2 separate regions of the Homo sapiens genome follow, and region 2 is linked to region 1. The links come from fine-mapping of genetic effects on gene expression. Tissue or cell type: whole blood. Region 1 holds a variant in brackets; the other region holds the start of a gene. All regions are shown on one strand. Distances are from middle to middle.

Region 1 (2,681 bases):
TGTGTGTGTGGTTTTTTTTTTTGTTTTTTTGTTTGTTTGTTTTTTCTGAGATGGAGTCTGGCTCTGTCGCCCAGGCTGGAGTGCAGAGGCGAGATCTCGGATCACTGCAACCTCTGCCTCCTGGGTTCAAGCAATTCTCTACCTCAGCTTCCTGAGTAGCTGGGATTACAGGCGCCTGCCACCATGCCCAGCTATTTTTTTTCTTTTTTTTTTTTTTTTTGTATTTTTAGTAGAGACGGGGTTTCACCATCTTGGCCAGGCTGGTCTTGAACTCCTGACCTCGTGATCCACCTGCCTTGTCCTCCTAAAGTGCTGGGATTACAGGTGTGAGCCACTGTATCTGGCCTGCTTTCGTTTGTAAAGGCCATATTTTTCTTCTCTTGGGTCTCCAATAACTGTGATGTTAGATCTTTTGTTAAAGTCCCACAAACACCCGAGGTTCTGTTATTTTTTTTAAGTTTATTGTCTCTCCAGGTAATTTCTATTGTTCTGTCTTCAAATTTGAGGAGTCTCCTCTTTTCTTCCATTCTGCTGTTGCCCATTCATTAAAGCTCCTTCCTTTGGTTTTGTATTTCTAGGGTGTAAACTTTCCGTTTAGTTATTCTTTATATTTTCTACTCCTTTCCTGAGACTTCATATTTTTTCATTTGCATGAAGCAGGAGTTTTAGCTGAAGCATGTTTATGGTGGCTGGTTCACCACCTTTGTCATCCCGTCAGATAGTCCAACCCCGGTATCAGTGTCCGTTGTCCGTTGATTGACATTGTTTTGTTGTTGTTGTTGTTGTTGTTTTGTTTTTTTTTTGAGACGGAGTTGCCCAGGCTGGAGTGCAGTGGTGCCATCTCGGCTCACTACAACCTCCGCCTCTGGGGTTCAAGTGATTCTCCTGCCTCAGCCTCCCGAGTAGCTGGGATTACAGGCGGGTGCCACCACGCCTGGCTAATTTTTTGTATTTTTAGTAGAGACGGAGTTTCATCATGTTGGCCAGGCTGGTCTCCAGCTCCTCACCTCAGGTGATCCACCCGCCTCAGCCTCCCAAAGTGCTGGGATTACAGGCGTGAGCCCCCGCGCCTGCGCGCCCGGCCTGATTGACATTTTCAAGCTGGGATTTTCCAGGCTTTGAGAATGACCAGGTCTGCGATGACACTCCCTGGCTGGGAGCAGGAGGGACTCCTGAGACTGCTCCCCTTGTGGACAAAGAGGAAGTTGGGCCGATGGCCGATGACGGCCAGGCCGCGAGGCTGCTGCTGGGCCCTGGGTCACAGGTCGAGGTGTCAGGCCTCTGAGCCTAAAGCTCAACCATTATAACCCCTGTGACCTGCACATATACGTGCAGATGGCCTGCAGGAGCCAAGAAGTCTGAAGAAGC[C/CA]AAAAAAACCACAAAGAAGTATAACAGCCGGTTCCTGCCTTAAGTGATTAACCAACATTACAACATTCTACCACTGTGACTTGTCCCTGCCCTACCTTGGCTGATCAATCGACTTTGTGACATTCTTCTTTTGGACAATAAATCTTATGACCTCCCTACCACATACCTTGTGACCCCCTCCTCTGCTAACAATAGATAACCACCTTTTACTGTAATTTTCCATTACCTACCCAACTCCTACAAAGCAACCCCTTCCCCATCTCCCTTCGCTGACTCCTTTTTCGGACTCAGTCCGCCTGCACCCAGGTGATTAAAAAAGTTTTACTGCTTACACAAAGCCTGTTTGGTGGTCTCTTCTCACAGATGTGCTTGACAGAGGCCGCCCTGCAGTTCCTGTTCCGATCTAAGGAAGGGAAGGGGAGGCGAGGAAGAACTGGGTCCCAAGACAAGAGGGTCCATTTCGTGAGGCACACACTCAGGACAGACCCTACCCCGCTGCTCTACTCTTTCGCTTCAGTCCCTCCTTCCCGGCCTCCGCTGGCCCCCTGACCCCGCACTGATCATTAATGCAGAAGCAGCGCAGACCAGCAGCCGGGATCGCCGGTAATCCCAGCACTTTGGGAGGCGGAGGCGGGCGGATCACCGGAGGTCGGCAGTTCTGAGGTCGGCAGTTCGAGACCAGCCTGACCAACATGGAGAAACCTCTGTCATGAGCCGCTTGCCTCCACCGTGCATGCAGATCTGCAGGGGAGTGGGAAGAGGCAGGTTCTTTGGGTCATTTGAAACGGTTTGGAGATATGCAGAGGCTGGGCTCAATATTAAGTAGGAATTGGGATTTATATTGGCAGCGAAGCGTGGACCCAGGCCCCTTCGGATCCGCACTTGGGCCCCAGAGAGAGGTTGTTCCTTTCCTCCCCGCCTCCCACTCAGGACCACCCATGGCTAATGGTCCCTGACTACAAATTCCACCTGACTGGAGGCTCGGGTTTGAGGTTACACAACTCGCTGAGAAGGGGAGGATAGGGGCTCCCAGATGTCCGGAGACCCCGGCAGGGACTGTGCACCCAGCTGTCTGAATGCCAGAGGCCGGCTCCGCGGGTAGCCATCCCTGCACCACCTCCTCGGGACTAGAGTCACCACAGCCTTTGTTTTTTTGTTTTTGTTTTTGTTTTTGCAGCGCCTGTTTTGAGGATTCTGAGTATTAGGGTGGGAAGCAAGTATTATTACATCAGCCTGGCTAGCTCAGTCGGCAAAGCATGAGACTCTTAATCTCAGGGTCGTGGGCTCGAGCTCCATGTTGGGCGGAGCTTTTA
Region 2 (2,681 bases), 29 kb before region 1:
CAGTGAGCCAAGATCGCGCCACTGCAGTCCAGCCTGGGTGACAGAGCGAGACTCTGTCTCAAAAAAAAAAAAAAAATATATATATATATATATATATATATATACACACATATATAATATATATTCACAGGCATATAACTGTCTGAACAGTAAAACTGTAAGAACACACTAAAACATGAATAGTACTTATTCCTGGATGGTCGTATTAGAAATGTTTTTTACCTTCATTCATTAAACAAATATTTACTAAGCATCTACCATGTGCCAGGCACAATTCTAGGTGCTTGTCATAGGGCATTAAAAAGTGTCTGCCCTCATGAACACTTATCGTTGAGTCGTGGGAAACACGTATATGTCAGGTAGTGATAAACATTAGGGAGAAAAGTTAACGCCGAGCACAGGTTGTTTACAGAGCTGGGGAAGGCCTCCTTGAGGGGGTGACATATGAGCAGAATGAGGGAGCAAGCCTTGTGGCTATCACGAGAAAGCTATCTTTATGGTTTTCCAATTAATTTTCTAAATTTTCTCTTCCAAGCATGCAACACCTACATAATTAAGACAAAACAAACCAAAAAAACTCTTTCCATTTATGAAAGAGATCTGGAGCCTGAAATCATCTCCGGGTCGAGGCGTGGAGAGAGTGGGAGAGGATCCGAGGGTATGGAAAGGACCCCGAGCCCCCCTGCTCTAGATCCCTCCGGGCCGTGGGACCCCTGACGCCCAGCAGCAACTCGTGGACAAAGCAGCTGGTGAGAGAACGCGGGACTCCGGCCAGGTCAGTGTCCCGCTTGCCGCGTCCTGCTAAGGCGACCCGAAGACAGAGGATCGCCGCAGGAGGCTCCGCGCCCCTTACCCGAGGGCACTTCCCAGCAAGCTCGACGCCTCTCCAGGGAATTGGGAGGAGCGGGACCCAAGAGGCTAGAAAAGAGTCTCCCCGGCCCGAGCTCCACGGCCCGCGGCCTTTCGGCCCTCACCTACTAGTTGGCAAAGAAAGACCGTGGCAGAAGGAAGAGGCCGCTCCAGCGCATCCCTTCGGGCGGAGCAGAAGCTCCACTTGTGGCTAGGCCATGTGCCCTCTCCGTTCCTCGGGCCAGCCTTGGCTTCCCCTTTTTGTCGCTCAAGGGCCAGGGTCGCAAGGAAATGTGAAAAAAAAGCGGAGACAAAAGAGAACGAGGTAAATCTAGATGCAGAGCCTCGCCTTTCCTCCCGGGTGCAGGTGTATGACGCGTATGGAGTTTCTGTCTTCTAATAGGCAGCCTGAGAATTCTTCCTGTTCATTGGCCATCGGTCATGGAGAAGGCGGGCTCAGTGGACGAACGGCTTTCTGGGAGCTGGGGAATGCTTGCGTAGCGTAGTTTCCCAGCGAGCCCCGCGAGGACTTCCGGCGCCGGGAGCTCGCGGCGGAAGTGGGATCTCCTGGGCCGTAGTGGGCGTTGTGTGTTTCGGGGGCGGGGGCGGGGGCGGGGGCCGGGGCGGGGACGGGGCCTCTGGCCGCCTGGCTCCAACATCAAGCACCGGGCTCCGAGTGGCCGGGATCAGCGCCCCGAGGCAGAGGCCGGAGGGCGCGCGCACTGCTAGGAAGTGCTGGTCCCCCGCGCCGCTCTGCCAGCTTGGTCCCCCGGCAGACGCCCCTGTACGATCGCCGCTCGCCCCGCGGGCGAGGCTGCGGTGGACAGCGCGGGGCTCCGGCTGGCTCGCCTTCCCGCCTGCCGTGTCCTGCTGAGCGACCCTGGTGAGTCCTGGCCCTCTTCGAGGAAAGTCTTCTTCGAAGTCACCAGAGGATGAGAATGGTGCGCGCACCTTTCAGGGGTCTTGTGAGGAGCAGAATAAATAAAGTGCTTAGGATGGACTAAAGAATTGGAAACAACCCGAATGCATCACTCGAGTATTGATTAAGAAACTAGAGCATATCCATACCGCGGAAGCTCATAGTGCCGCTAATGTCTGTGCAGTAAGGTCTCATTTATGTAGAAACACATCAAGCACCTTTTCTCCCCGCTATGGATGACTTTTTTAGTAAAAGCACAGGAAAAGGTCTGGGACGTCATTTGTCAGACTGTTAAGTCGGGGGGTACAATGGTATTGAGGAAGGGAGAGTTTTACAGATTTCTATATTGTTTGAATCTTCCCTTTTTTATTAAGATGGTTTGTATTTTTTTCATTTTCTTTTTACTTTTCTTTTCTTTCTTTTTTTTTTTTTTTTGAGATGGTCTCACTCTGTTGCCCAGGCTGGAGTACAGTGGTGCGATCATAGCTCATTGCAACCTCAAACTCCTGGACTCAAGCAATCTTTCCTCCTCAGCCTCCCCAGTAGCTGGGACTACAGGAGCCCCACCTGGCTTTTTTTGTTTTTTGGTACAGATGGCGTCTCACATTGTCTTCCCAAAGGGGTCTTGAACCCCTGGCCTCAAGCAATCATCCTGTGTCTGTCTCCCAAAATGCTGGGATTACAGGCATAAGCCACCAAGCCCGGCCAGTTTGTATTTTTATTGTTGAAACAAAAAATCGATTACTGAAAATTGCATAATACACTTTTCAGTAGAGAGTAACAATGTAAGGTATAAATGTGTCATACATTTATATGTACCTGTGGATAAATGGCTTTGGATGGTGTCTGTAAGCCCTTCTGTGACACCTCAGGGCCAGATGTGTTTTGGAATTCAGAGGTTTTCAAATTTGAG

What was found. PIP is the estimated chance that this variant, and not a neighbour inherited with it, causes the effect.
Region 2: ZNF213 starts here. The variant in region 1 is fine-mapped to the expression of ZNF213 in whole blood (TOPMed, PIP 0.98).

What each region holds. Positions count from the first base shown.
Region 1 is chr16:3,162,339-3,165,019 of GRCh38, forward strand. It overlaps TRK-CTT8-1 (tRNA-Lys (anticodon CTT) 8-1), which reads left to right and starts at 2,600; the gene lies at 2,600-2,672. The variant C/CA (reference allele first, on the strand shown) is at 1,369.
Region 2 is chr16:3,133,656-3,136,336 of GRCh38, forward strand. ZNF213 (zinc finger protein 213) reads left to right here and starts at 1,374. Exons shown (of 6, transcript NM_004220.3): 1 at 1,374-1,732. ZNF213-AS1 (ZNF213 antisense RNA 1) reads right to left here and starts at 1,227. Exons shown (of 6, transcript NR_110900.1): 1 at 975-1,227. RefSeq lists enhancers at 955-1,124, 1,135-1,324 and a silencer at 1,435-1,664.